7 separate regions of the Homo sapiens genome follow, and regions 2, 3, 4, 5, 6 and 7 are each linked to region 1. A link means that fine-mapping ties the variant in region 1 to the expression of a gene that starts in the linked region. Tissue or cell type: whole blood. Region 1 holds a variant in brackets; each other region holds the start of a gene. Each region is shown on its reference strand, or each on the opposite one.

The links. PIP is the estimated chance that this variant, and not a neighbour inherited with it, causes the effect.
Region 2: it holds the start of STK40, and the variant in region 1 is the best candidate, but not a certain one, in a credible set for the expression of STK40 in whole blood (TOPMed, PIP 0.85).
Region 3: TREM1 starts here. The variant in region 1 is the best candidate, but not a certain one, in a credible set for the expression of TREM1 in whole blood (TOPMed, PIP 0.83).
Region 4: it holds the start of MCEMP1, and the variant in region 1 is the best candidate, but not a certain one, in a credible set for the expression of MCEMP1 in whole blood (TOPMed, PIP 0.83).
Region 5: CEBPD starts here. The variant in region 1 is the best candidate, but not a certain one, in a credible set for the expression of CEBPD in whole blood (TOPMed, PIP 0.85).
Region 6: IRAG1 starts here. The variant in region 1 is the best candidate, but not a certain one, in a credible set for the expression of IRAG1 in whole blood (TOPMed, PIP 0.84).
Region 7: CD300LB starts here. The variant in region 1 is the best candidate, but not a certain one, in a credible set for the expression of CD300LB in whole blood (TOPMed, PIP 0.78).

Annotation. Positions count from the first base shown.
Region 1 is chr7:50,218,896-50,223,263 of GRCh38, forward strand. No RefSeq gene overlaps it. Among named protein-coding and RNA genes, the nearest start is that of IKZF1, 84 kb to the right of the region's middle. The variant G/A (reference allele first, on the strand shown) is at 2,323.
Region 2 is chr1:36,384,189-36,388,556 of GRCh38, forward strand. STK40 (serine/threonine kinase 40) reads right to left here and starts at 1,736. Exons shown (of 11, transcript NM_001282547.2): 1 at 1,535-1,736. It overlaps LOC124904012 (a long non-coding RNA gene), which reads left to right and starts at 2,003. Exons shown (of 2, transcript XR_007065779.1): 1 at 2,003-2,139; 2 at 2,231-4,368. RefSeq lists silencers at 894-943, 1,244-1,313, 1,464-1,843 and enhancers at 2,050-3,249, 2,074-2,183, 2,214-2,583.
Region 3 is chr6:41,284,427-41,288,794 of GRCh38, forward strand. TREM1 (triggering receptor expressed on myeloid cells 1) reads right to left here and starts at 2,256. Exons shown (of 4, transcript NM_018643.5): 1 at 2,181-2,256. The coding sequence starts at 2,229. RefSeq lists a silencer at 4,241-4,330.
Region 4 is chr19:7,674,978-7,679,175 of GRCh38, forward strand. MCEMP1 (mast cell expressed membrane protein 1) reads left to right here and starts at 2,113. Exons shown (of 7, transcript NM_174918.3): 1 at 2,113-2,198; 2 at 2,660-2,749; 3 at 3,127-3,264; 4 at 3,373-3,423; 5 at 3,514-3,627; 6 at 3,947-4,006; 7 at 4,121-4,198. The coding sequence starts at 2,144. The coding sequence ends at 4,137. RefSeq lists an enhancer at 3,080-3,149.
Region 5 is chr8:47,736,067-47,740,434 of GRCh38, forward strand. CEBPD (CCAAT enhancer binding protein delta) reads right to left here and starts at 2,098. Exons shown (of 1, transcript NM_005195.4): 1 at 847-2,098. The coding sequence starts at 2,054. The coding sequence ends at 1,245. It overlaps SPIDR (scaffold protein involved in DNA repair), which reads left to right. Exons shown (of 20, transcript NM_001080394.4): 20 at 1-240. RefSeq lists an enhancer at 1,122-2,060 and silencers at 1,457-1,646, 2,137-2,246, 2,287-2,366, 2,457-2,926.
Region 6 is chr11:10,691,222-10,695,589 of GRCh38, forward strand. IRAG1 (inositol 1,4,5-triphosphate receptor associated 1) reads right to left here and starts at 2,534. Exons shown (of 21, transcript NM_130385.4): 1 at 2,315-2,534. The coding sequence starts at 2,381.
Region 7 is chr17:74,529,599-74,533,966 of GRCh38, forward strand. It overlaps CD300LB (CD300 molecule like family member b), which reads right to left and starts at 1,877. Exons shown (of 4, transcript NM_174892.4): 1 at 1,713-1,877. The coding sequence starts at 1,752. LOC107985074 (a long non-coding RNA gene) reads left to right here. Exons shown (of 3, transcript XR_007065902.1): 2 at 2,949-3,043.

The DNA of each region.
Region 1 (4,368 bases):
AACAGCTGTATCTTGTCCTTCCAGGATCCTCCAGATAGAGAAGCCAGACGTTGGGTGGAGGAGGGACTCAGATGGGGCTTGAAGGGAAGGGCCTTGTGAGGGCTGTAGGTGGCACACACTGGCAGAGGCACTGAACATACGTGACCTCCATCCTCACAAGAACCTGGCAACCAAGTGGCAACCCCATGCTCAGAAACAAAACTGAGGCTCAGAGAAGTTGAAGAATTTGTCTAAGGTCATGAAGCTGATAATGGAGGAAAATGGGATTCCAACTCAGGAGAGTTAAGCTCCAAGCCCTTGATTTTACCACTTGGGCCTTGTTACTCAAGGTCCAGGAACAAGTGGCACCTGTGCCACCTGGAAACTTGGTAGAAATCAGATCCTCGTGCCCCACTTCAGATGTACAGAATCAGAATGTGCATTTTCTCAAGAGTCCCAGGTTTAAGCATGTGTTCTGCCTTCCTGGGGAGGGTCCTTGAGCACTTTGGGGTCACAATTCAGCACCAAGTGGTGGTACATTCCCAGGTCAGGAAGAGGCTGTGTGTCTCTGGAGTAGAAACCCTAAGAGGCATAATAAGCAATAGTGCTTAGGAATAAGTGCTCAATTGTGATAATCAAACAGATAAGGAAAATAATGAGAAGGTGAGATTTCATGAAAGACAAAAAGACTAGTAGATGTTACACCTCTGGTTGTTTCTGAGTTTGTGAGCTCTTCGTCCATCTCTCCATCCACTCATTCATCAGAATGACTAAGGATCTAAAATGTTGGAAGGACACAGGCTGTCTCATTTTGCCTGTTTGGCCCACAGAGAGAAGTTAAAAGAGTTTGTTCTTACACCTAAGATGAGCTTCTAAGTTCAGTTACCAGAATTTTCAAGCAATGCAGAAAGTGGCATTCTGTGGTGGTCTTTAGAAAAGCAGTATCTCCTAAATCAAAGCAAGAGAGAATAAGACCACACATAAATCAAATGAAGAAAGAGTAGTGCCATCAATGATAGAGACAGACCTGAGGAGAGGGTGGTGGTAGAAAGAATCTGAATTAGAAAAGGGAGGAGAAGAAAGCCATGAGTGATGCTTGTCAAATTTGGGACTGGGCCCACACTGGCATTAAAGAGACCTGAATAGTACCTAGAAGTGTTCTGGGAGTTTTCACCATCCTGTGCTCCAATCATATCCTAATAGTTACTGATTTGGAAGTGGTACCCTGGGTCACATATGTCAATATCAATAGAAAGAAATGATTCTTATGGTAAATTCACAAAAGGATTATTTTTGGATTATAATTTGGCATCATGTGAGTTTGACTACCATGGGCTTGTTTCTGAGAATGTGATCACTTCAAGATGCCCTTACAAAATTGATCCTCTCTATTCTGAAAAATTGTAAGCCCTTGACCTGGCTTACTCACCTAACTACCGAGTGGCCCAATCAGCAGGTCTCCTTTCCTGGCATGGCACTGTAACCTCCTCACCCTGGATCTCTCCCACTACTTTCTTACAATTCAGTTAAGGGATCACCCATACCCACATGCTCACTGCCTCTCCCACAGTTAGTTCCTGAATCTGTTTTGACTGAGGTTGCAATTACTTAAACTTTTGCAACCATCCCCTTCTCTCTATTCAACAGGCAGAACCTAATATCATCACTCTTATTACGTGGCTAACCAGGGAGCTCCTGTTCTGTGCCTCAATTACCAACTCTCCCTGTCCTGTGCATGCCCTAGTCTATGGAAAGGACTTTAAGTGCCCTTTTCTGTCTCCATTTAGTCCTCCAAATGCCTTGCTTTCAATATTGAAGTCCAGCTTCTGAACACCCTACCAGGTGGCAAGGCTCCAAGAACCATTTTTTTAAGTGGTTCCATACTGCTTGGCATCATTTAGCCAATATGCTCAGGGTCTACACTCCATCTACCACTGGGATCCCATCACCACCTGCCTACCCCACTTCCACTCCCACAGCTGACAACTTTCCCTGAACAAGATTGAGATTGTTGTGCTCTTGGACACTTGTGCCCAGCCTCCCCTGCCCTGACAGCATCCTTGCCCTGTGGGTTCCTCCAGCCTCCATTTTCTTACCCCAGTGGGGAGACTAAGCACCACCTATGACTATCTCTTTACTTCATTACGTGGCTGGAGATGGAGTTTCTTCTGTAAATGGCATCTGACCTATCTCAAGATAGAGGAGCCCAAAGGAGTGATCCGAGTGAGTGAAGTGAATTAGTGACAACTTCATGCAAAAAAGTTTGAGACACGTCATGGAGATGAATTAGGGAAGAGGTAGAGGAGGACCTCCAAATAGAGGAAATGAGGTAACACTTGCAGG[G/A]ACTGGGCAACCACCAGCTCAACAAGGGAGGGGACAGAGGTCAGCCTGTGGCAAGGAGCTCCCAGCCCCTCCCTCTCTGGGAAGAAGCAGTGGAAGCACCTTTCCTCCAGTTCTGCTCTGGACTCCCAGCAACAAACCGTCATGATCTGGGAACTTTGCACAGCCAAGGATGAAATGTCAGCCCTCAAACCTATGTCAGAGCTGCTGTGAAAATTGGAAATAAGAAACTTATGATAGGAAATTCATTTGCATGTACTATTTTACTTTTAACCCAGAATGATAGCTTTAGGCTTAAGCCATCCTATATCATCTGTATGAATTATTTCTTAATTTTCACTGAATGTTCAAAAGTAGAGTCATGTTTAATCATATAAGCACAGAGATGCATATACACACATATTCATACCTGCATGGGGCAGGGGAGTGTGTGTGTGTGTGTGTGTGCATAAACACAAGTTGCTGGGAGGAGATGAAATGAATAATGCCATACACTCACAACTTAAAAAAAATTGGGAGTAGTAGTATTTTGTTTCTCAGTTATTAATTCCAGTTAATGTAGTGATTAGAAAAGGAATCCACAAACATTTACTGGAATCTAAGTTCAGCCAAGCATAATGAGACTGGCTCATGTTATTTTTAATAGGCTTTTCATAGCTCATCCCTTAAATATAGAGAAACAAAGAGGTAAGAGAAATCAAGTCTATTCAAAGGCACATTCCATCCATGATACCAAGATTACAGCAGTTCTCTCATGGCTATAAAGCTTTGTTCCTGTCTCTTTAGCCAATTCAATAAGTAAGCTCACAAATGGGATAAAATAGATTAAGGAAGCCCTAAATGTAAGTGTCAAAGATAAACAGAAAACATAGTATACTCTTTCTTGCTCTTTTTGCACTGTTGTGTGACTTGAAACATTTTCCCTAGTTAGTTAGGAGACTTGGAATACTTCCAATCTGCCCCTACTCCTTGCCGCTTATAAATTCTTAACTTCCTATTGATACCAAAGATATCACAAGAAAACAAATCAATATATCATATTAATATAGATATAAAAACCTTCAACAAAATACTAGCAAGCCAAATCCAGTAACATATAACACAAACTGTATACCATGTGTATGCATACCAAGTGGAACTTATTCCAGGAATTCAAGGTTGGTTTAATATCTGAAAATTAATTAATGTAAAATAACATATCAACAGAATAAATGATAAAACCATATGATCCTCTAAATTAATGCAGAAAAGACATTTGACAAAAATCTAACCCCCTTCATGATAAAAACACTCAAAAAGCTATGAAAAAAATGGAAATTTCCTGAGCCTAATAAAAGACATCTATGAAACATCCACAGCTAATTTAATAGAAAATGACTTATTGTTTTCCCCTAAGATCAGGAATAAGACAAAGATATTCATTCTCACTGCTTCTATTCCACATTGTACTGGAAGTTCCAGCCAGAGAAATTAGTCAGGCAAAGGAAATAAAAGGCTTTTCGACTGGAAAAGAAGAAGTAGAACTATATTTATTTCCAGATGACATGATCTTATATATAGAATATGCTACAGAGCACACTAAAAAAATAGAATTAATAAATGTGTTCAGCAAGGTTGTAGGATATGACACCAATATGCAAAAATCAGTTGCAAATCTATACATGAGCAATAAACAATTTGAACGTTGTTTTAAAAATTTCATTTACAATACCATTCAAAAGAATAAAATACATAGAAATAAAGTTAACAAAGAAGAACCAATATTTCCATGCTGAAAAATCACAAAACCTTAATTTAAAAAAAGAGACATCAATAAATAGGAAGACATACTATGTTCATGGATTGAGAGATTTAATACCATTAAAATGAAAATACTCCCCAAGATGATCTATAGACTCAATCCCTATCAAAATTTCATCAATCTTTTTTGTAGAAAATGAACAGTCAATCCTGAAACCCACATGAAATTACAAGGGACCTTGAATAGCCAACCAACCTGAAGAGAAAGAACAGAGTTGAAATGCTCACACTTTTCATTTTCTTTTTTTG
Region 2 (4,368 bases), not on the chromosome of region 1:
CCAGCTAATTTTTCTATTTTCAGTAGAGATGGGGTTTCACCATGTTAGCCAGGCTGGTCTCGAACTCCTGACCTCAGGTGATCCGCCCGCCTCGGCTTCCCAAAGTGTTGGGATTACAGGCATGAGCCACGGCGCCCAGCCACTACTAGCTTCTTTAGACCACATTTCAACCATTTGTTTACAGGTCAATTTCCCTTAATTAGACTGTATGCTCCTTGAAATAAAAATAGATAACATTTATTGAATTCTTATTACGTGGCAAACATGGTTGTATGTTTTACATGTTAACTTTTTACTCTTCATAATATCTCTCTCTGTTATCATCCTTGTTTTATAGACGAAGACACTGAGGCACAGGGAGACTAAGCAATGTGCCCAGGTACACACAGCTGGAAAGTTGCTGAGCCAGAATTTGAACTCAGGAAGTCTGGCTCCAAAGCCTACTCTTAACCACTATGCTGTCTAGCACTTGCCTCTAGGCAAGGACTCTTGTTGTGGTCATGTGAGAAATGAATGAATGAATGAATGAGGACTGTCTAGATTAACCCAACCAACAACTTGCACAGCACGGCCATTAGGAAGCACTAAAGGAGCTCACAGGCACTGTTTACAAACAAGATTATTTTGGCCCTACAATTACACATTCTGCTCTTCCTTATCTCACGCAAAACTACTCAAAGAGGGAAAGGCGCCCAGCCCAGTATGCCTACCCTCTTCCCCACTGGTTCTCAAAACCAAAGCAAAGCCAACCGGTTTCCTCCAGTGACTTAAAACAGAGCAAAGTCTATCCTGCCACACAGAGGGCGGCTGTCATCTCTTCCTTCCGCTAACAAAAGGGCTTCAAACCTGGGGATTGGGGTGGGCAGAAAACTCGGCATCAGGAATCCGAATGTCCCTACCTAACTGGCTGGAAGGCGGGGCCAAGTGGCGTGGGAATGGGCGGGCCTGACCGGCTCGGCAGGTGAAACACTGACCACAGCAAGCTCTCCTTGGAAAAGGCCGGCCAAACGTGGCCTTGGCAAGCAGGTAGCTGTGACTCGTACCTGAACGCCGCCCGGGATATGAAAATTCCCCAGCAGCGGTAGCGCCCGTGCCAGAGTGAGGGCTCTTGGAGGAAGCCCTGGCTGGCCCTCCCTGGGGACTCGTTCTAACTATCAAGTCACCCTCGGGATTAGGAGGGAAACACGGAGAGGCAGAAGGTGTCTTTTTGGAAAGATCTGGCTGGATTCACACGCCGGTTGCTTCACTCACTGGCTGGGTGACTCTAGGCAAAGCTGGCAGTGCCCACTTCCCAGAGCTGCGGCGGGGACTGAAGCTCCCGCGGCCTCCCGGTACCCGGCGCGAGGCAGCCCTCGCCCCTGCCGCCGGGGAAGGGCAGAGCCCCAGCGGAGGAGGGGGCATTCGCCGGGGCCATTTCTGCTGCACTCAGATGGCTTCAGGCTGTCACTCCGATTCCACCGCCGCGGCCGCCGGGGCCCGCCCCGCCTACCCGCAACCCCCACCCGGCTCCCCGCTCCTGGACCCCTGCCCTCACCTTCGCCGGGTGGTCAGAGCTATTCGCCCATAGTCCGTAGCCCAGAGCCGGGGCTGCTCGGCTCTCCCTCCCGGGGGGCCGGGGCCGGGCTGGAGGCGTGCGAGCCTCTCACCGCCGCCTCCCAGCGCAGCCACCCGAGCCGCCGCCGCCGCCGCCGCCGCCTCCCTCCATGGCTGCGGCGCCGCCACCTGACAACGGAAGTGACGCACCGCCCCCCTCCTCCCCAGCCTTAGCCGCGGCCCCGCCCCCCCGGGCCCCGCCCTCCGCCTGCGTCTCCAGCCCCACGGCTTTCGGATTGGGGCGCCATCTTGACGATGGGCGGAAGACTTCAGGCAAGAGGCCAGAGTCCGATTGAGGATTGGTTCAGGGTGGGGTCTGGGCGAAACCTGTTACACGATTGGAGGCCGAGGCTCTAATGGGGCGGTACTTACTGCTGATCTATATCTGCGGCGAGGCTGGGACGGAGGCACCGCCCCGCCCGACCCCACAGAACCTCGCGGGCCCTACACTCCCCCTGCCGAGGTTGAAGTCCCCAGCGGTTGGAAGATCGGCCAATTGTAGTGTATTTATCAGAAAAGTGACTCATCCTTGATCCTCATTTCCCGGTTTGTGGAACTCTGTGAGGAAAGCCCTGCAGTTAGGCTCAATAAAAGACAGAAATTCCTGTCGCAGCGCTCATAATTCATTTCCCTCTAGGTCTGTCGCCTTTGTAGAAACCCCGAGGATGGCAACCTTCAACCTGGAGATCCCTGAAGCCTTGACCAGGGAGGTTTACAGTGAAGCGTTCCTATTAGCGACTACAGCTATCTAACCTCAGTTCCTCCTGCTGCAGTTTCGGTCCCTTTCTCCTCCTCCTCCAGCAACCACGCCCTCCATGAATCAGCTTCTTGCACCAGCAGATGAGCCCTTTAAAGGGATTGCATCAGGCAAGTGACTCACTGGGGCCCTCTAAGAGCCTGGCTTCCCTCCCTTGGCATGCAGAAGCAGCTAGAAGGGCTCAGTGGCAGCAGCACCAGCGGCCGTAGCCCCACTCCCTTGTCCCAGAGGTGTGAGTCAGGGTGTTTGCTGCTTATGATGTCTAACTCTTGGCTGTCTTTCCAGCTGTCCCCTGGGTCACTCTATATCCATGTGTGGGCACACGTGTCTAAGCTTGTGTGCACTGCTGGGTTTTCCTAGGGTGTGTGGCCACTTGTGTGTATGTGCATTTGTCATCTCCACATAGGCAGTGCCAGGACACAAGAGCTGATATGAGTGAAGTCTGGCTGCCTCTACCTGTGTCCTTTGTCTCTGAATGCCTGGTGCCCACTGAGCTGCTGATAGGGCTGACTAACAAGAGTAATCAGGACAGCTCCCACCGTTGTGCCACACTCTGCATGGAGCACTTGAGACAGTATTAGGTAGGAGGCTGTTTACAGCTGAGGAAGCCAGTGCTCAGAGAAGGAAATTAATGTGCCCAAACACACACAGCTAATAATGGCAGGGCTAGGATTCAAATCAAGTCTGATGGATTCCAAAAAACTTGGCTTTGAATCCCTGCTGCATCACTTACAAGCTGGGTGACTATGTGCAAATTGCCCAATCTTCCCCTTCTGTCCAAACAGGGATAACGCTTGGGGGATCACTGTGAGGACTCGGAGTTATAGAAACAGCTTTTTGCAAGACCCAGCGAGCACTCATACTCATCTCAGTTGAAGGGCTTCAATGAGGTGGGTGACCAAAAGACAGGCATAAAGAAGGCCCCAGCCCAGCAAGCTCCACTCTCTGACAAAACAAAAAGCCTAGGGATTCCGGAAGCCCTGACTCTGACAAAAATGAGTTCTGGGTTTTCCAGAGCTCTAATTATCAGCTAGATGAATCACTCTGCGCTGACACCACCATTCCTACCCCCAGGAGACTCTCAGCTGATTGAAAATCCAGGATTTTAACAAAGGAGAGGAGGAGGAACAGAAAGCTAGGAGGAGAAGAAGTAATGAATAGAAACCAAAGGTGCCAGCCAGAGGAAATGAGAAACTGTCATCAGGACACTACCATGAGGAGAACGCTGGGACACACACACACACACACACACACACTCACACTCACGCTGACATACTCTTGCTGGCTCTCCAACTCTAGGCTTACGGCAGACGGTGCTGCCATAACAAAGTGACGCCTGTCACAACAGCATGAGATGGTGGCTTGACAAGGTATAGGCAGATCTGCCTATCACAGAAGGAGGGAAAGAGACCTTCAACCCCCAGGGGCTTCCTCAGGCTTCTGAACCCTCGTCTCCATTACTGGTTGGCTCTGGCTTCTCTTTGTCACCAAATCGCAAGGCCTAAATCTGGCAAATTTTGAGTGTCAGACCTACACCCTGTGGCTAGGTACCACCACTGTGGTGAACAAAGGCACCTCTTATACTCTGTCATCAGTATGATGCCAAGAGTGCTGGGAAACAGAATAGCACAGCAGTTAAGATCATTGAGTTGGAGTCACACAGACCTGAGTTCAAATCCCCATTCTGTTGTTCACCTTGAGCAGGCCACATAACTTCCTTGAGCCGGTTTGCTCAAATGTAAAATGGTGCTATTAATATATGGGGTTTTTATAATGATATAATAAGATTACTTTCAGGGCTGGGCGCAGTGGCTCACTCCTGTAATCCCAGCACTTTGGGAGGCCGAGGTGGGTGGATTGTCTGAGGTCAGGAGTTCGAGACCAGCCTGGCTAACATGGCAAAACCCCGTCTCTACTGAAAATACAAAAATTAGCTGGACGTGGTGGCTGGTGCCTGTAATCCCAGCTACTTGAGAGGCTGAGCAGGGGGAATCACTTGAACCTGGGAGGCAGAGGTC
Region 3 (4,368 bases), not on the chromosome of region 1:
ATCTGGCCTTGTCCAAGGGAGCCTTGCTGATGGGAGGCCAAGCAGAGCGGAAGTGAGAAGACCAAGGTCCGTGTTTTCAGCTGGACACACAGGGCTCTCTAAGTTTGCTGAGAGACTGTAGCTTACCCACTCAGGCCTGGGGTACCTTCCCCCATGGAGCACCAAATAACAGGCTAGACAGTGCTGCTGGGTCTACTGTGTGGGTCACGGTAACACTAGTACTGCTGTTATTAATACCACACACTTAGGTCCTTGCAGGCCTGGTGAAAAATGACAAGTGCTTACCCTTTCATGGAGCCCCCTGGCATGCCCACCCCAGGATAGGCCAACAGATCTGCCTGACCTTAGGAAGACTCAACTCAGGGACTCACAAGGAGTTTAAAGGTGAAATCAGTCTTGAAAGCCAGTTCTTCTGGGAGCAGACTCCAGTTTCTAGGGAAACCTCGGAAACAGACCTCTTGGGCAACTCCCACACACTCCAGTCAGGAATGTGCCTCCAAGAGACTGTTGACCAGAGGCTGAGTGTTGTCTGAAACCAAGCCTGGTTCCCTCATTTGTTCACTCACTCATCAGACTGGCTGGGAGACTTCTCTATCATAGGCACTGTGCTGGGCTCTTTGGAAGACACACAGACTCCATCCTCAAGTTGCCACCACTGAAGCCCTAACCTCTGAAGTTAATGTTACAGATAAATCTCTTTTATTTGCCAGCTCCCCAGGGAAGGTGGGAGTTACAGGTGACTGAGTTTGCAAACTTGCCTGTCTCTCACAGAAGGAAGGAGACAATAAGAAATGAAGGCTGCTGAGCTGTCTGTGCACAATTGCAAGAAGGGAATTCCTTTGAATATGTTAATTAAAAGGGTAGCAAATACTACCTATTAAGTATTATGTGCTAAGGGTTTTTAAAGACTATCTTATTTAATCTTTATAAAGTAAAAAGTTGACACCATTATTCTCCCCATTTTATAGATAAGGAAACTGAGGCACAGACAGATTAAGTGATTTGCCCAAAGTCTCACCATAGTTAAGTACTAGAGCCAGGATTCAAACCCAAGGACTCTGGTTCCACCTAAAGCACTGAGCTACATGGTCCAACACAGTCTGATAGGGATTAGAGAAGTCCTGGCCCAAGTGTGAATAAGTATCCAGTTGCAAGGAGCATTGAGGTTAACCCCTAACCTATCCCCACAGGGCACAATGAAATATATACCACTGGTTTTCTCTCACACAGGTACATAACCTTCAGCCCTCTGCCATCTCCCAGTTCTCCTTCAGAAAAACATGAATCAAACACAAGGAAATGCACTTGTCCATGAGGAGCTAACTCCCTTCTGCCCATCTAGATTATCACCCCAGCTCCAAGAAGACCCAGAGCAATGTCTGAGCACAGGCTCTTCAAGGCAGTTGTCCATGACTTTGCTCAAAGTAGAGAGCCCAGGAGGATACCTCTCCCTGATTTTTCATGCCTTCCCAAGGCAAGCCTCGCTTTTAACTCATATTGACACTTTCCTCCTGTTATTCATAAGGATTAGGAGGAGGAGTGAATAAAGCCCGCATGCTTCTGGTTTGGGTGCAGATGTGAGCTGTGCGGATCGTAAGAGGAGACACAAGAAAGAGCTGGGGCATGCGCCGGCTCTGCTGAGCCTCAGCAACTGTGCCCTCCAACCCCAGCGTGCCATGGAGAGCTGGGATGATCACCTCCACCAAAATGAGCACCAGCCTCTTCTGGTCACGTCTGTGTCCTCAGCAGTAGTATATTTGCTGTCCCATAGTAGACCCCTGGGAAATATTTGTTAAATCAATTCTGTCTTTTGGGTTTAACAGATTGTCAACATCAAACACATCATGATGGAATATAAGAAAAAAATTTCAACATCAAATAAACTTATTGTAGATCATGCCATGATGAGATCTACTCTATCATTATTCCCATACTAGGCTTTGCATGTCTCTAACAACATCGACATGCACAGACATCTTTTTTCCCTGACTCTCTCCTTCTTTTACTTTTGTGTGCAGACACTGCATGTTCTCCCAATTCTGGGTAGAGCAGCACGGTCTGCCATAACTACTGGTTGGCTCTATCTTGGATGGCCCTGTGCTCTGAAGCTTCAACAGAAAAGGGCTCCCCGAGATCCTGGACCAAACGCCTCCCCTGCTCAGTCCTCTTCCTTGTCTTACCTGAGACAAAGAGCATCCACAGCAGCCCCCAGAGCCTGGTCTTCCTCATCCTTCCTGTGCACCAGCTCCAACTGCTGCTGAGGGCTCCCGGGACAGCTACAAGGCACCACAATGACCTAGAGGCTTCGGAAAGTTGCACAACAGGATATGAGGCCATTCCTGGGAGTCACTGAGTTTGGGTTCTGTTTCATCACCAGTTGCTCTGACTCCTGACATCAACACAATAATACAGAGACCAAGACTCACTTCTCAGTTAAGTTTCTTTGAACTCCAGTTTTCCTTTCTGTGGTAATAATGACAATTACCTTTCAACCTTACAAAATCTAAGGGAGAATGATACTTGAATGTAAATCAAAGTAAGGCATTCATATTAGGAAGGGGAACAGAGGGCCCTTTGCTCTCCAGAGGCCCCCTCTCCATTCACATCCAGTTTAGTGTAGTGAAGAGAGTCAGGCCCACATAGGGAGAGGCTGCGACAATCGTATCTCATCTTCAGGGTTTTTGTGAGAACATGTTGCTTCATCCTGCCCTGCTCAGCCCCGTGGGTTCTCTTGGCTTCTGGTGACCTGGGGTGCACCTCCTCTTCATCACCAGGAGGGCCACACCCTGCATTTGTCCTTCAGCATTGCCACAGACATGGCCTGGGAGCTCACGGGGGTGTAGGGACCCCAGAAACAATTTGAGAGGACACTGCCACCACCCAACAAGAACAGACTTAGATTTAAAAAGGAAACTTGGTTCAAGACGCTGAAGCAAGAAGAAAAAATCCAGCAGGTTTTGTACTAGAAGCAAGAAAAGACAGATTTGACAGTGTGAAAATCAAATCAATAATGGAGAGGATTCACTTCAGAAATATTCCCAAATGTGAAATGAATAAAGACATTTAGAAGAGCTCAGAAATTTAAGGGAGGACAAATCACAGAATTCCAATCTACAAATCAGAGATGTCCTTAAAGCATAAAATGGAATGGTGGATCACAAGCAAGATTAAAAATTTTATCTTAAAAAATATGCTTTCCAGGTCTGAGAAGAAATCTAAAATTGGAGGTTGAGAGTTCAACATGGGCAAGGAAAAAATTCACAAAGTGAGACCTAGAATAGGAAGTTTCCAGGTGAAAATTTTTAAATTTAAATAAAAAGATTCCTACTGCTAAATAAACAAAAAAATAACTTGGTTTCTTCAAAGGAATTGAAATAATCAGGACTCAGATTTCTTCTCTGAGTAACAAATACCATGAGAGAGTGGGATGAGGTATAAAGAACATTATGACCCTAATATTTTACACCCAAATTGATTGCTACTCAAGTATAGGAACAGCTAAAAGGTACTATCATGTCTGTAAATTAAAACAAACAACAACCAAAAAAATTTTCAAGGCTAACTTTAATTTTTTTTATTAAAGCTGTTCAATGCAGCAATTTATAAAATATAGAAAATAATACATAAACTTAAATCATGTTATTACACTTTATAGAGATCATTTGTAGTGGAGATTTTACTATGTTTATTTTTTGTTCTACAAATAATGTCGGAAAACAGGCTTCAAACATGCTTGAACTGAAATCTGCTGGCCCCTCCTTTTGCTGTACTCAAGCAGTCCCTAAAGAGGAAAAATAGACAGAAAGCTCTTGACATTTTCTGACTCAGAGAGGAGCCTACGTGACTTCTGTGGCGATGAGTCAAATTAATAAAGTTTATTTCAGTGAATAAATCCCCTCCTTACAACAAAATTAATATTCCACACTTAAATAATAGCTATTTCACATACTTTCTACATTTTTGTGTCTTCATATACTTTGTGTGGAGGATTAAGCTCCTGGAAGATTAAGAGGGAGCTTTGAACTAAACAGTCCAAGAAGAATTTTTAATTAGACTTGAATATCACTGGAGGCTGATTGCTCCTTCACATTTTCCTAACTACGGACAGCACCTGCATTTAAATTAGAATGAAGTAGAATGAGGTCTTTCTCCACTTGTCTGATCTATTTGTGTACTTGAGGTCAACAGTGCAAATAGTCACGTGTCACTTAATGACAGATACATTCTGAGAAATGTGTTGCTAGGTGATTTTGTGTTGCAGGAACATCATGGAGTGCACTTACACGAACTTAACATGGCACAGCCTACTGTACACCTAGGCTGTATGGTATAGCCTATTAATATTAGGAAGGGGAACAGAGGGCCCTT
Region 4 (4,198 bases), not on the chromosome of region 1:
GCCTCCCGAGTGGCTGAGATTACAGGCGCCTGCCACCACGCCCAGTTAATTTTTGCATTTTTAGTAGAGACAGGGTTTTATCATATTGGTCAGGCTGGTGTCTCTAACTCCTGACCTCAGGTGATCCGCCCGCCTCAGACTCCCAAAGTGCTGTGATTACAGGCGTGAGCCACCACACCTGGCCAGAAAAAAATAAAAATAAAAATGTATGCCTGTAATCCCAGCACTTTGGGAGACCAAGGCTGGAGGATCAGTTGAACCCAGGAGATCAAGACCAGCCTGGACGGCATATTGAGACCCTCATCTCTACAAAAAATAAGAAAAATTAGACTGGGCCACGGTGGCTGATGCTTGTAATCCCAGCACTTTGGGAGGCCAAGGCGGGTAGATCACGTGAAGTCAGGAGTTCGAGACCAGCCTGACCAACATGGGGAAACCCCGTCTCTACTAAAAATACAAAATTAGCCGGGGGTGGTGGTGCATGCCTGTAATCCCAGCTACTTGGGAGGCTGAGGCAGGAGAATGACTTGAACCTGGGATGCGGAGGTTGCAGTGAGCTGAGATAGCGTCATTGCACTCCAGCCTGGGTGACAAGCACAAAACTCCATCTCAAAAAAGGAGAAAAATTAGCCAGGTGAAGTCGTGCCCACCTGTAATTTCAGCTACTCGGGAAGCCGAGGACGAAGGATTACTTGAGCCAGGGAGGTCAAAGCTGCAGTGAGCCATGATCACGCTGCTGCACCCCGGCCTGGGCAACAGAGTGAAACCCTGTCTCAAAAAAAAATTATTAAAAAACATTTAAAGAGACAGGGTCTTGCTATGTTGCTCACGCTGGTCTCAAACTCCTGGCCTCAAATGATCCTCCTACCTCAGCCTCCTGGGTAGCTGGGACTACAGAGCGAGCCACCATACCCAGCTACTTTGTGCCTTTTGTAACCCCAGTTTTCAAGATCAGATAAACACAAAGTGAACTAAGACACCTTCTAGACAGAGTGCGGGCATGTGAACGCATGCTTGTGTCTATTTTTCTGAGTGTCACAATGCAAATAGTATGCAAATGAGTTTGTGATGTGTGTCCGTGTGCAGACCTGTGTGTGTACATGTGTGAGAGAGAGTATCTGGGTAGATAAGCAGATGGATGGATGAGAATGAGAAACCTGGAGTTTCCAGGTGCAGAGGAAACTGTTCCTCCAGGGTTCTTTTTTGAGACAGAGTTTCCCTCTTGTCACCCATTCTGGAGTGCAATGGTGTGATCTCCGCTCACTGCAGCCTCCGCCTCCCAGGTTTAAGCGATTCTCCTGCCTCAGCCTCCTGAGTAGCTAGGATTACAGGCGCTCGCCACCACGCCCAGCTAATTTTTGTATTTTTAGTAGAGACGGGGTTTCACCATGTTAGCCAGGCTGGTTTCAAACTCCTGACCTCAGATGATCCACCCACCTCAGCCTCCCAGAGTGCTGGGATTACAGGCGTGAGCCACCGCACCCAGCCTCCTCCAGGGTTGTATAAAAGCAGGGGATTTGGGGAGGGAGGGAAGGATGTGGGTCTGTCCTCAGTCCCAGATGTGGGTGTGGCGTTCCAGTGGTTAGTTCCCGTTGCCTCACATCTGTGCTTTTCCTCCACGGGGACTTGTAGAAGTAGAAGAACTTCTTGGGGGTGGAGCTGAGGGGTGGAGCTGAGGCTGGAGGGAGGAAGGTGTGGGGGGACCCAGGGGTCCTGTCTCCAAGCCTGGTTGCTCTTACGCGAAAAGTTGGGACACTGAGGTGTCACAGCTTCTCTTTTGAAATGGAGAGGAGGTAGGAGGGTGAGGTCCATCCAGGTAGACACAGACACACACAGAGACCACAGCTTCCTGTAACATTTCCGAGTGTCGAATTCCATCTCCCGGTCTAGAGGTTTTTCTTCTTGGTCCTTCCTGAGACCTCTTGGCTCCCAAGAGCCTCTTGATCGGGGCAGGAATGAGGGTGCCCCAGGGTGCGAGAGTCGTGGATCCCTGAAAAGAGGAGGCTGCTCCCCCTCTTTCTTCCCCCCACCTCCAGATTTCCTCATCTGCCCACACCTTCCGGTGGGCGGGGACGTGTATGGACAAATTTGCGGGCTGGGGACCATGGAAGTGGAGGAAATCTACAAGCACCAGGAAGTCAAGATGCAAGCACCAGCCTTCAGGGACAAGAAACAGGGGGTCTCAGCCAAGAATCAAGGTTAGGGAACTCGAGGTGGAAGGGAGGGGTTAAGAAGGAGAGATTGGGGGGCCGGGGGCTTTTGCTCATGTCTGTAATCCTAGCACTTTGGGAGGCTGAGGCGGGAGGATTGCGTGAGCCCTGGAGGTGGAGACTGGCCTGGGCAACATAGGGAGACTCTGTCTGTAAAAAATAAAAATAAAAAAAGAAGGAGAGTTCAGATGGGAGAGGTAAGGGGTCAAAGGTGGGGGCCGGGGGCTCCTTCCCCTCCAAGATGTGTGGATGTGTGTGTGGATGTGTGTGTGGTGTGATCACTCAAACTCTCACACACCCGCTCCACTTAACCAAAAAGCAGATTTTAGCTTCTCACTCCTTATCTTTCACCCCCTACAATTTATTGAGTGCAAAGGGTTGGGTAAAACAAGATCCCGGATCCACTCTCCACACCACAGAGCTCTGAGCAGATCTCCAACCCCTCCCAGGTGCCCATGACCCAGACTATGAGAATATCACCTTGGCCTTCAAAAATCAGGACCATGCAAAGGGTGGTCATTCACGACCCACGAGCCAAGGTGAGCAGACACCCACCTGCTCACATCCCATCACCTTGGGAAGGGGCAGGTGGGCGGGCAACTGCAGGGCCCCCGGGGCTGCGTGGAAGGGAGGAAGCGATGGGGAAGGAAGAGGTGACAGCTGTTGACGTGCTAATGAGGTCTGTTGATGATGACAATGTTGGGGAATGCTGGAGAGGGGGTCTGTGATGGTGACGGTGTTAGATCGCTGAGGGTGGCTGGTGGTGGCAGTGTTGTTGACGATGATGACAAGCTGCATGACCACAGCTGCTGATGGTTTTGAGAGGAGCGAGGTGTCCATGGTGTTAGAGACAGTGAGGATGGTTTGAGTGGTGGTGCTGGCCCCTCAAGGTCACTTTGCTGCCTCTTTGCTCCAGTCCCAGCCCAGTGCAGGCCGCCCTCAGACTCCACCCAGGTCCCCTGCTGGTTGTACAGAGCCATCCTGAGCCTGTACATCCTCCTGGCCCTGGCCTTTGTCCTCTGCATCATCCTGTCAGCCTTCATCATGGTGAAGAGTGAGTACTTCTTGGGAGGAGGGTGCTGGGGGGCCTAGACTTTCTCCCTTGTCCTTCTCTCTCTCTCTCCCTGGGTGCTTCAAGGATTTTCCTGCCCCTCCTGAACAGATGCTGAGATGTCCAAGGAGCTGCTGGGCTTTAAAAGGGAGCTTTGGAATGGTGAGCGGAGGGTCTGAGGGAGACCCGTGGGGTCATGGTGGGGGTCTGGAGAGGGATGGATGCACAGACACCCCTGTTTCATGCCCTCAGTCTCAAACTCCGTACAAGCATGCGAAGAGAGACAGAAGAGAGGCTGGGATTCCGTTCAGCAGAGCATCACCATGGTCAGGAGCAAGATTGATAGATTAGAGACGACATTAGCAGGTGCCTGTGTAGTCTCGCCTTCTATGGGGGTTATTTGTCACCAATGCCCGGAGCTGAGCTGGGGGCAGGGGATTCAGGGGAGGAGAAAGCCGGGGTCCTACCCTCCCAAAGCTCAAGTTGTGGAGGGGCGATGGGTGTTACCATCTGGGTTGCTCTGTGGGTATTGAAAGGCTCCTGGGAACCCCAAATCCATGGGCTCTGCTGTACCCCAGGGTGGGTGTGGGGCAGGGGGGGTGCTTCCAAGGAAGGTGGGGGCTTTGTTTGAGGCTCCACCGCAGCTTGACTTATCTGTTCCCACCCAACCCTCCCCGCCCCCTAGGCATAAAAAACATTGACACAAAGGTACAGAAAATCTTGGAGGTGCTGCAGAAAATGCCACGTAAGTTGGCGCCCCGACAGGAGGTGGAGGAGGGTGGGTGGGGCTTCAGATTTAGCCCCAGCTCCTCTCCCAGGGGCGGGATCTGCCTCACTGTGGGTCTCTCCCCATCCCCAGAGTCCTCACCTCAATAAATGAGAGGACATTGTGGCAGCCAAAGCCACAACTTGGAAGATGGGGCTGCACCTGCCAACG
Region 5 (4,368 bases), not on the chromosome of region 1:
TAATTAGGCTGGGTAATGTGCACGGAGAGCAAAGATCACAGACTAAGGAGCAGTCAGTCGGATATTTGCTTTGCTGGCAAAGATTTAAACCAAGAATTAATTATCTTTGGACACTATAAAGATTTTGTTCCCTTCCTTATAGCAATATAATCATGACAGGCCATGGTTAACTACATCAGATACACGTAGCAGCCGTGACCAAGACATGGTGCCCTAATACCAAGTGTTCTTGGGTTAAAGGCAGGCGGCTTTTTAATTAAATCTTAAAGCACTGCAATTACTGGCAAGACAGCTGGTCTTAAGCAGTTTTGTGACTGCCCTTTTCATCCACTACATGACTATTCCGGCCTTTCTGGAGCACTTTTGAAAATCTACTTGACTCTGTCCACAAGACTGAGGAAAGTGAAAGCAAAGTCCCGGGAAAGCGGGAGATGATTCAGCCCGGGGTTCTGCCCCTCGCCCCTCCAGCAGCCTCTACAGTTAGGGAGCTCTTGAACTGTTCTCAGCAGGGGCCCCCAAAAAGTCAACCCTTCCCCAGGTCTGCGTTCTTCGGGAGAACACCTTCTGCTGGAAAGCTGCTAGCTTACCTGAGCTCAGCCGTGCTCCACCTAGCTTAGGCAAGTTAAATAAGGCCAGGAGAGAGCCTTTAATGCGTTTTAAAAGCGACAGACCCTCTCTCCTGAGTAGCTCGGGCCTGCGCCCCATCCCCCCGCCCCCCCCACACACACACCTGGCGCCCGGGCTCCCTGGTGCTCGCTGGCTGCGGGTCCGGAACGCACCCTTCCCGAGCCGGGTCCTGCGCCACCGGCGGGCGGGCGGGAGTCACTGCGAATATAGGAAGCAGGGGCGATTTCAAATGCTGCTTTATTCTTACAAATACTGTAAAAATTAATATAAAAAAGTGAGCATGCTCAGTCTTTTCCTCTTATCTACAATACAAAGGGTTTGTCTGAAAAGTCTGGTTTTTTTTCTTTTTACAAATGTACCTTAGCTGCATCAACAGGAGTAAGATGTAGAAAAAGCTACCATTACAAAAATAATTTAAGGGAAAATAAACACGTTTAGCTTCTCTCGCAGTTTAGTGGTGGTAAGTCCAGGCTGTAGCTTCTTTGCGCTCCTATGTCCCAAGAAACTGCAGCGGGCACCCGGCGGCTCTGGCTGCGCCAGGGCAGGGCGCGCTCCGCTCCGGGCCGTCGGGTCTGAGGTATGGGTCGTTGCTGAGTCTCTCCCGCCCCGGCCGCGCGTTACCGGCAGTCTGCTGTCCCGGCGGCCGGCAGGAAGGGCGGGCTGGGCAGCTGCTTGAAGAACTGCCGGAGGCCGGCCAGGTCCCGCGTGAGCTGCTCCACGCGCTGGTGCAGCTTCTCGTTCTCAGCCGACAGCTCCACCAACTTCTGCTGCATCTCCTGGTTGCGCCGCTTGGCCTTGTCGCGGCTCTTGCGCACGGCGATGTTGTTGCGCTCGCGCCGCTGCCGGTACTCGGGGCTGCCGCGGTCCGGGCCCCTCTTGCCGGCGCTCTTCTCCCGGGCGGGGCCGGGCGCGGGGGTCTGCCTGGGGCTGCTGCGCGGCGGCTCCGGCGACGTGGGCGGGGTGGGCTGCCCTGCGGCCGCCAAGCTCACCACGGTCTGTGCGCACGCGGCCACCTGCGCGGGCAACAGCGAGCCGGGCGCGTCGCCGTCGCCCCAGTCGGGCTCGCGCTTGAGCAGGCGGGGAGCGGCAGGGCCCGGGCCCAAGGGGCGCGCGGGGCCGCCGGGAAGAAGCTCCAGGGGCCCCGCGCCGCCCGCCTTGTGATTGCTGTTGAAGAGGTCGGCGAAGAGCTCGTCGTGGCACAGCTCCAGGGTGGGCACGGCGGCCATGGAGTCGATGTAGGCGCTGAAGTCGATGGCGCTCTCGTCGTCGTACATGGCGGGGGCGGCGGCGCCTGGCTCGCCTAGGGCCCCTGGCTCGGCCCCGCGGCCCGGCTTGCCCGCCCGGCCCGGTTCGTAGAAGGGCGCAGGCTCCGCAGGCCAGGGCGCGCCGCGCGCCGGGCCGTCCAGGCTGAAGAGCGCGGCGCTCATGGCGGCGTCGGGCCGGGCTCTGCGTCCAAGCGAGGCTGTCACCTCGCTGGGCCCAGCCCCGCCGCCTTTTCTAGCCCCGGCTGACGTGCACGCCCCGCCCCGACTCCGGCACCGCGGGGGCGCCCCGGGGCCGCGGGGGAAGGGGCGGGGGCGCCCTGGGAGCCCCCCGGAGCCGCCCCGAGCCTTCCCGGGGCGCGCCCCCTCTCAGTTCCTCCCCGGGGCCCCCTCCCCGGCCCTGGGGACCCCCAGCCCACGTTGCAGGAGGGTGCCCGCGCTGCTGCTCCCTCCCCGGCCCGGGCCGGCCTGCGCTGCGCTGCTGGGAATGACACTCCCTCTGCCAGCACTCCAGGGCCTTCTCTTCTTCCTGTTTGTGGGCTTGGAACCTCCTCGCTCCTCGGGGTTGGGAGTGAAATCAAAACCAGGACTTGGCCGCAGCGCGCGCGTCCCAGGCCGGCTCCTGTCGCCGGAGGGCGGGGGGTGGAGACCCGTGGGAGAGGACCCGCGCGTCCAAGGACGCCCCCCGACCGTGGGCACGCGCGTGAGGCCCTCGCCCCGCGCCTCCACCGTGGGACCAGATGCGGGAAGAGGCGTGGGGGACCAGACGTGGGGACAGCGGCGGCCTGGCAGGCGGGGAGGGCTGCCCGCACCGCACTCGGGCGCCTCGGGGAATCCGGGCCGGTTCTCGCTGCTCTCCTCGGAGGTCCCGGGTCCGGCCGGCCCTGGGGGTCGAGGCCCAGAGACGCGGCTGCTGCGTCCTGGCCGAAAGGCCGACGGGACGCTGTCGCCAAAAGCAGAGCAGATGGGGGAGACGCGGTCACGACACCGCGTCCTCCGCCGGCTCCTCGAGGTGCGGGCTCTCCGGCCGGACGCTACTCCCCGACCCCGCAGACCCGGGCGTCCGCCGCCAGCTCCCGCGCCCGCGTTTCTTCCAGGTCTACGGAAGCAGTGCCATCGTGTGGCGGCATCTTGCGTTAGACCTGTTTTTAGTTCCAGGCTCTTTCCCTGTTAAATATTCCAAAAAAGTGCCTTGAACCTAAAGTAGTTGGGTCCTTTTTGGGAAACAGGTAAGATCTACCAGTAGCTATAGCAGGGTGCAGATGGGCCTCGACTCACGATGGGGTTACATCCCGGTAGACCCATCGCACACTGAAAATGTCTTAAGTAAGAATGGGCTTTGTCATGTGTCCTGCAATTTGAGGCAGGCATTTCTGGTCAGACCCATTTATTATTTTAAATTAAAAATATGGTTTTTTTCAGCCGAGCACAGTGGCTCATGCCGGTAATCCCAGCATTTTGGGAGGCTGAGGTGGGCGGATCACTTGAGGTCAGGAGTTTGAAACCAGCCTGGTCAACATGGTGAAACCCCATTTCTACTAAAAATACAAAAATTAGCCAAGCGTAGTGGCGTGCGCCTGTAATCCCAGCTACTCGGGAGGCTGAGGCAGGAGAATCGCTTGAACCCGGGAGGCGGAGGTTGCAGTGAGCCGAGATCGTTCCATTGCACTCCAGCCTGGGCGACAGAGCGAGACTCCATCTCAAAAAAAAAATTGAGATGGGATCTCACAATATTGTCCAGGCTGGTTTCAAACTCCTGGGCTTAAGAGATTCGCCGGCCTCAGCCTCCCAAAGTGCTGGGATTACAGGCGTGAGCCACCATGTCGGGCCCAAATCCATTAAATCACTATCGCTAGTCACACCTGCTCCATGTCGAGTCTCTTCCTGCGCAGGCCTCTCACCAGATCTGCGTCGGAACACCAAGCTCTACTAACTGCTGTGCAGTTTCTGCAGTCAGTTCCAGAGGTCATTTCTAACGTTGCACTATGGGATATTTAATAGGTTTCCTAAAGAACAAACATATTTCTTTAGAGTTACTCAGAGGGTACACAATGATGATGTCACACAATTAATTACCTATTAAGACTGAAATCCAGCAATGCATAGAGTGTGGACTTACGCACATCCAGAAAAAGTTCTAGCACAAATTGTTTTGTTCTCATATATTTCAGAAGCCATAGAAACACTATTAAAGCCCTCCCTAATCACTTAGGGAATGCAAAATCAATATTTATAAGGGATAACCATATCCTCCTAAAAACAACTCAGAGACTATTTTCAGTGAGATGATTTACTGATTCCGATAGTCAATATAGTTACATTTTATTTTTATTTTTATCTTTATTTTTGAGACGGAGTCTTGCTCTGTCGCCAGGCTTGAGTGCAGTGGCGCGATCTCAGCTCACTGCAACGTCCGCTTCCCGGGTTCAAGCGATTCTCCTGCCTCAGCCTCCGGAGAAGCTGGGATTACAGGCCCGTG
Region 6 (4,368 bases), not on the chromosome of region 1:
GTCCATTTATTCACAGAAACATGATTGAACCTGAGCACTTCGTGTGCTCCCGGCATTCTGGGTGCTAGACACACAACGGGTGAGGAACGGGATAAGGTCTCCGCCCTTGCAGGGCTCAGTCTGCTCCTCCAGGAGGTGTGGGGTGCTTCTGTCCACCTCTGTTACAAAGACTTAGAGGAGAAAGGCAGGGCTTTTTAGAAAGCTGAGGACCCATCACGTATAGTTCAGCCCATCAGTCAAGGAACCTAGCTTCCTCACACAGACCCACAGAACTCCTCATCCCCAAACCATGAGCCTCCTCAGCCTCCCAGGGATTCAGTTTCAAGTAGGTTTCACATGGCCCTAACTTCCTCACCCAAGATACTATTTAAATTCCCTGCTTTGTCACTTGGTGGCTGGGTGAGCTTGGACGAGTCATTTAACATCCCCTAGCCCCACTGTCCTCACCTGGAGCAGTAAGGTAAAGATACATCCCCCATGGCATTCTGTGAGGGGGCATGTGAAATCCCTCGTGGAAAGCCTCAGATGCACCATGTTGCAAGGGGGCCGGTGATTCCCCCGCTGCACTCTGACATGGGGTCCCAAGCAGACGGGAGCTGACCATGGAGGTCAAGAGCAGAGCCTCCAGAGACCATGGCCTGGGGCTGAGCATCAGCTGTGCAGTCTCTCTGTGCTAAAGTGTCCTCCTCTACAAGACCAGGGTGGAAAGAATGACCCCTGCTTTGTAGAGCTGTGGGAGTCATGAGTTACTGTATGGGAAGGGGAACAGTGTTCAATACATAGTAAGAACCATGTGTTTGCTGTTTATTTTCTTTCAGAAATATATTTATGGGGATAACCAATCATGTAGTAGCAGCTAGCACATGGTTATCCCTCCAAGATGATAAAGGATACAGGAATGCCTCCCTTACCTCCAAGCATAAAGATAGGTGCATCCGCTGTGAATATAAACAGCCACCCACCAAATATGCATGCACACACACACACATACACGCACTATGGAATCATGGACAGTACAAACATGATAATGACAACTGTTTTGTCCATTAGGTCAAAAATCGCAAGACACAATTGGAGGCAGCATCATACCCTGGCATTCACGTCTGTGTTGAGAGGCATGGGCACTGGAGTTAGAGTCATACAAACTCATACAGGGTTTGAGTCCTAGCTCCGCTCCATCTTGGTGGAACGACCTTAGGCAAGTCACTTAACCTGAGTTCCCTCCCCCATAGAACTGTTGGGGTAGGGGAGTGCAGGGGGATGGGCAACTCCACCTGCCTCACTAGCATGTCATCGTCCCTCGGTGGGGGCAATACAATCCTTGGCAGGTCCTGACTCCTTTGGACCCCCAGCCTCACAGTCCCAGGAAGCTTCCTCCTTTTCCCTGCAAAAGACTCTGCTCAGACCAGATTTACTTCCCTGTGCCACCCCAGTGAGCAGCCTGAAGAGTGTTCAGCAGCTGCCGAGCTCTGGGAGGCTGGAGTGCTGGCCAGGGGTCCCAGACCCCGGGCTGCTGTTTACTCAAACTGCAGAGCCTCTATAGCCTTTACAACTGTTTCCTGGGCAGGAGGGAGCAAGACAGCTGGGCCTCTCTCTGGCCTCTGGCTTCCACTGGCTTTTCCTTTGGAAAAAGCCAGTTCAAATGGTGCTCACTCTAGGAATCGCTTCAACTCGGAGCCCTGGAGGTGAGCAGGGCCGGGCACGGGCCGGGCACATACACCCCCTCTAGGGAGCAGGGAAGGGCACAGGCCAGGGGAAGCTGGAGACAAAAGAGGAGACAGGGACAGAGATAAAAACAGGGACTGTGACAAGAACACAGGATGGGAAGGGCAGAGACAGAAATAGAGGCAGGCTTAAGGATCTAGACAGGTCATGCCAGCCCAGGTTCAAGGCAGAGGGGCGTAGGGGGACAGAGAGAGAGACACAGGAAGCACAGAGGGGAGAAAGCTCTGCTTAGCAGACTTGCCAAAGCTGAAGACCCCACTGTTGCCACAAAGGGGCCCACAGGAAAGCTAGGGGTTGCAATCGCCTGTCAGGACCCACATTTTCACCCTGAGCTGTGCACACTTTCCAACGGCAAGCAAAAGGAGCACAATCTAGTTAAGTTAGGACTGGCAAGATTCACTTCTGATTTAAAACTTAAGACAGCAACAATAAAGATACTCAGCTGAAATGCCACCCAACAAAGCCAGCTCCCCTGGAAAGTTAAAGTTTAGCACCCCCATCCCAGCACCCTGTACCTTTAAGGAAGAGAAGGTTCCCTCCGCTTCCCAGCCGAAGAGGCAGGTTATTCTAGGATATAGGGGAGGCTTACCTAAAACTGAGTTATTCTCCTTTCCTCCTCTGGCCAGCCTCTCTTCACTCTGGGGAGCTTTTACCATTTAAGGTCAATGTTACATCTGGCTCCGGAGCTCAGAGCCGAGAAGCCTCTGGCTGCAGAACCTCGGCCGCACGCCTCCTCTGAGAGGGGCTGGGACTTAGAGCCGAGAGCTCCTCTGGGAGCCCCACTCCGGCCTGGCTCGGGGGATAATGGCAGGGAAAGCCGACCAGCTGGCCTCAGGGCTCAGGGCAGGCTGGGCCTTTGGGGCAGTCGCTCACCCTGGGCCCCTCCGATGGGTATCCACACAGCAGATGGCAGTCCCCATGGCAACTCGTGCCACTGGACACTGTCCTGGCCGGACGGGAACAAAGGGACCCTGCAGATCTCCCCACCCGCCTGGAGCCTCCAGCAAGCATGTGAGCCTGGAGAAGACCCTGGGCCAGCGCCAAGAGAAACTGGGAATGGTTCCTGTCCTGGGGATTCGGGGGCAGGGGCTGCTCCCACTGCGTTAAACTCTTGGGATTGCCAGAGAGAATGGCCTGGGAGATTCAGCTACTCCCAGACTTGGCACCAGCCCCAGGGATGTCAACCTTGCTCCTCCATTAAACAGCCTGTGGTCTTAACATCGTGGAGCCTCAGTCTCCTCATCTCTAAAGTGGAAATAATAATGATAATGCCCGACTCACTAGGTAGTCAGGGGATTAAATGAGATGTTAGTCAAGTGTTTAACACACTGCCAGCATCTCATAAGAGCTAGATCAGTATGAATGAGCTTCCTGCCCCTGCCCAGGAAATCCATACCCTGTCCATACACACTCTTCACCTGCCTTGGGTATAGGGCCTACCCAAGGCCAGGATCATGGAGCTCCAAGCTGGGGGCAAGCCACATGGGGACTTCAGCCCCTTCTGTGGTTAGAGCAGCACAGAGAAACCCTAGGTAAAGTTGCTAGATAAATTACAGGACACCCATTTAAATTTGGATTTCAGATAAACACAGGACATACTTGTATTAAAGACTGTTATTTATCTGAAATTCAAATTTAATTAGTCATCCTCTATTTTTGTTTGATAAATCCGGGAACCCTAGCTTTTGGCCATCATTAGCCACCCAGAAAACATTCAGTAGTCATGGTAGAGAGCACTAGGGATTGGAGCTCCCAGGCCTATGGCCTCAAGCTCTCCTGGCAAACACAGTCCTTATGCTCAGCTCCTGGCCACAGATCAGTTGTGCAGCAGTGGCAGATGCTCTCCACTGAGCCTGGCCCACTGAGCCTCCATCCCAGCACCTTCCTCAGGCATGTGGTTCTCAGGAAGTCCTGTCTCTTCTGTGTGGTTGTTGTAAGAGAGATCACTAACAGGGGTGCAGCGCATGAAGTCCGCTACCCTCATCAATAATTGTTTTTTGTAAATGAAACCAGAGGAGGCTGTCTTGGGTACTAGCCATGCTTTCTCTCAAGTGTCCACACCTGTCCACATGGAGGTACAGGCTCCCCCCACAACCCCCGTCCCCCACAAAGCCACATGGTGGTAACTACTAGAATTGCAAGTATATGGTCTAGAAGGAACTGACCAAACTCTTCAGTGCTGTTTCTCCAACTTCAATGTGCATTAGAACCCCCAAGTGTGAAGCTCCTTGGGTTCCTCTTTCAGAAATTCTAATTCTATGGATCTGACATAGACCCAGAAATCTGCATTTTAGTGAAGGCCCTTGGGTGATTCTCATGTACTTGGTCCAAGGATCCCACATTAGGGAATGTCGCTTCAAAGGTTGATCTTGTGAGTCCAGCAGCAGGCACTACAGGGACAATCAAAATCAGAAGTTGAAATGGAACTTAGGGCTGGCTGTGTGTGTGTGTGTGTGTGTGTGTGTGTGTGTGTGAGAGAGAGAGAGAGAGAGTTCAAAATCATATATCATATTGAGTACCTACTATATTCCTAGCATTAGATTAGATGATTTACATAAAAGCACTCTATCCTCACAAGTGTCTACGCCTTTCCTTCAAAAGGAAACTGAGGCTGGAAGAAGTAAAACAACTTGCTTGATGTTC
Region 7 (4,368 bases), not on the chromosome of region 1:
TCACCAACATGGTGAAATCCTGTCTCTACTAAAATTACAAAAATTAGCCAGGCATGGTGGCAGGCACCTTAATCCCAGCTTCTTGGGAGACTGAGGCAGAAGAATCACTCGAACCTGGGAGGCGGAGGTTGCAGTGAGCCAAGGTTGCACCACTGCACTCCAACCTGGGTGACAGAGTGAAACTCCGTCTCAAAAACAAAAAACAAAAACAAAAACAAAATACCCAAAAACATAAATTGGATTTGTCAGCAATCACTAACAGCAGAAAAGAGATGCTGCTGCATTGAACAAAGTGTCATCAATCCCAGCTTCAGTCATTCAAACTGTAAATGGCTCACGATGTAATTAGTCCCGTTTAAAAAAATATTTGGGGGTTTCTCTAACCACAGAATATGATGGCTGGAACTATTAATCAGGCTTCTATATGTTGTCAAGAGTTGGTATGAGGAACGATAGAGATGGAAATGACAGGGCAGCCGTCAGCTTGGAGCAGAGCCCCGTTGAACGGGCTGAAGGGTGGAAGTCCAGCCAGGACTGGAGTCGGGTCTCAGAACTCCCCAGCCATGCTCTTTCCTGTTGTCCCTCCGTGGACTGCTCTATCTGTGCCAGATGGTCAGTCCCTAGGCACCAGCAGAAAACTGTGTGGCCCACACACATTGCACACCCTGCGTAAAATTCTAGATTGTCCCCTAATGCCCTCTAGGTGTCCACCAAGGTTTGCCATGGAGAAGATCATCTAGCCCTTCCCACTTTCCACCTGGGTTCTTGAGAAGTTTTTTCTTTGAAAGTCTCAGCTCCTGAGCCTGGCGTGGATGGCCTTCATAATCTTGTCTTTTGTGTTTCCAACCTCATATCCAACTCGCCACCTCCAAGACATCCTGCACACTGACAGCTCCCTCTGCATGAATCCACCATTCTTTCTAAGCCTCCATCTCTCTGCCCAGGTCCCCCAACACACACACACACACACACACACACACACACACACACACACCCAACTCTCTAGAGTGTTCTCCTCTCAGCTCTGCTCCAGAGACTGACCTTCCTTCTACAAGGCACATCAAGTGCACAGCTTCGTGAGTCTTTCTCTAGTCACCAGAGAGAACTGCTTCATCCTCCGCACACGCCTCCACCAATGCCTTATTGTGTCCTGCAATTGCTCATTGTTTATGTGTATGTCTCACCCACTAAGCCATCTGGAGTCTTTTTACTTTATTTTTTTTTTGAGACAAGGTCCCACTGTATCACCCAGGCTGGAGTGCTGTGGTGCGATCATAACTCTGCAGAATTGAATACCTGAGCTCAAAGGATCCTCCAGCTTCAGCCTCCCAAGTAGCTGGGACTACAGGCACGGTCACCACGCCCAGCTAATTTTTGTTCATTTTATATAGAGACGAGGTCTCACCATGTTGCCCAAACTGGTCTTAAACGCCTGGACTCAAGCAATCCTCCCACCTTGGCCTCCCAAAGTGTTAGGATTATAGGTGTGAGCCATGGCCTCAAGCCTGGAGTCTTCTTTAATGGCCAGTTCTCCTCCTCTTTTTTCTTGATGTCCTCAGGCCCCGAAGCACACGATGTCAGTCCCCAGTGCACCTTTGTCGAATGACTTCACAAAGCCACCTCTCATTTCCCTGGATGTGGAAGGACAAATGCCCTCTGCCTCCTGCCCTGCCCCTGTCATACCAAGCGCCCAAGGCCCCAGCCCCACTCACCTGAGAGGCTGAGAAGGAGCAGAGCAGGGGGCAGCCACATGGCTCTGCCTTCCCGGCTCCTCGTCCGCCTGATCTGCAACCAGTGGCAAATGCAGATCCCAGATGCACTCTGGAAGTTCTGCCTGAGCTCTGGCTTGCACCTTCTGCACATCTAGACCGCCTTTGACTTTCTTACTCATTCACTTCCTTTTATAGAGTGGGTAGTTCCTGCTTTTAATTATTAAACGAAAGAGGTGTCATTTTTTGGCAGGGCTGCGCCACAGGGCTTAAGCATCGTCACTATGTAAAAAAGAGGAGGGAGGGGACTGTGCAGGGTCTTTAGGGTAGGGGGAGATACGTCTGCAGAAGGGGTGGGGTGGGGGGCGTCTGGCCTAGCAGGCCTTGGGTCCAAGGGGTATAACACTCTGGGAGTCAATTTCAGAGCTGTTCTATACCACAGTGAACACCCAACTCAGATGTCGGATGGGTCATGCTGGGCACACCTGAACATGCATTTGTTCAGGTGTTATAGCCAAGTGCATAAACATGCAGACTGTTGGGTCAGACAGACCTGGCTCTAACCCCACGAGCACCACCTACAAGCTGCGTGACTGTGGACAATGCAATCAACATCTCTGTGCCTCAGTTATTGTATCTATTAACTGGGCTCATAATGTTTGTTGTTGTTATAGGAGTTATTAAGAAATTATTTTAGGTAGATAGGAAAAGGGGTGCTTGGGAAGATTTTTTTTTCTTTTAAAGCAGCTCCATAAATGTTTCTTGTCTAGAAGAAAAGCCCTGGCTCTTAGAGCTGGGCAGGCAAGCTTTGATATGCAAATACAGGCCATTAGAAACTGCGTCCACCCAAACATGGAGACTCCCGCCTCTTCTTCTTTTCCCCACGTTCCTGGCAACATGGCCGCCCCTACATACACCCATGTGTGTAGAACATCATGGCGCCTGTATTTGCATATTAAAAGGCTAGGGTAGGAAGGCTAGTTTTTTCGTGGGCTACTTGAATGACATACCTGGTCAAACCAATCCCCTGGGCCCTATGCAAATCAGGTACCGCCTCCTCCAGCCTCCTCATATAACTGGCTGTTTTCCACCGTACTCGAGGTTCCCTCTTTCAGCTTGGAGCCCGCCTCCCTCAGTCTCAGAACAGGGGGAGCCTCTTCCTTCCTTCTTTCTTGTCTATTAAATTCTCCACTCCTTAAAACCACTCCACGTGTGCCCATGTTGTTTTATTCAAACCAGTGGGAGACCAAGGACCCTAGTGTTCCTCCAGTCATCAGAGCCATACCATTTTGTTGCATTGGCCGGGAATCCAAGGTACGACACTCATCGGAGTGGTAAGTATGGGAGTGAGCTTAAAATCTCTTCTATCATTCCGAGGCACTCTTAGCCTCTATTTTAAAATAAAATAAGTCAATGGGCATCCGTCAGCCGGGTACATACACTTAGTGTTGGCTGCCATACTGAAGACTCGAATGTGAGGCTTGCTGCTGAGAACACGGAGAACCCCCCAACACCCCTGGGTCATTGGGAATGTTGGCCATGTTTTAAATCAGCTTCTTTTCACGGGAAGACCTCGCCATTGTGCAAGGCTGGGAAAAGTTCTAAGGCAACTAACAATTTCTGGCCAGAGCACACCCTGGCATGATTCAAAGGCCCCTGGACTGGACCCAGCCTCTGGCGGCCCATTCTGGGTGTTGGCAAAGAATCCTCAACTATCTTGTCACAAAACTCTCCTTCCTTCTCTATCTGCGGTCTCTTACACTTTCTTTGTGTGAAATGTGTAGCGAGTTTTACAGCCTAGGAAAGTAATCCTGTTAGGCAAAATCAGGAAGATGCCCTTGCAATCTTCTAGGAACAGAGTTCTCCCCTTTCTCCCACCGTGAGGTTACTCACTACCACGTCTCTAGTGAGCACATAGTATTTCTAAGCCAACAGTGCCACCTAGTAGAAATAGAAATCCTCTACATAAAGCATATTTTTTCATGGCAAACCGCAGCTTCTTTTTGCATGATTAGAAATCAGGCTCGGCCAGGCGCGGTGGCTCATGCCTGTAATCCCAGCACTTTGGGAGGCCGAGGCGGGCAGATCATGAGGTCGGGAGATCGAGACCATCCTGGCTAACACAGTGAAACCCCGTCTCTACTAAAAATACAAAAAAAAATTAGCCAGGCGTGGTGGCGGGCGCCTGTAGTCCCAGCTACTCGGGAGGCTGAGGCAGGAGAATGGCGTGAACCCGGCAGGCAGAGCTTGCAGTGAGCCGAGATCGCGCCACTGCACTCCAGCCTGGGCAACAGAGCAAGACTCGGTCTCAAAAAAAAGAAAAGAAAAGAAAAGGAAAGAGAGAGAGAGAGAGAAAGAAAGAACAAGAAAAGAAAAAAGAAAAAGAAATCAGGCTCTAGGCCTCTTCTTGAAATGGGAAAGTTCTGCCTTTAGCAGTTAGGAGTTAAGAAGTCTTCCATAGCCAAATTTTAGTCTCAATATTGTCCCATTGGCAGGAAAATGGCCATTCGGTTCCTACATTCCTTTAAGGCACCTATTCTGTCTCCGATTAAGATGGTACTTAATTAGTAAGGGGATTTTTAAGTCCAGAAGTTAACCAGAACCATTTTTCTAAGGGTAAATGCTTTAGCACAGGCCATAATAATAGCAAGATATAAAG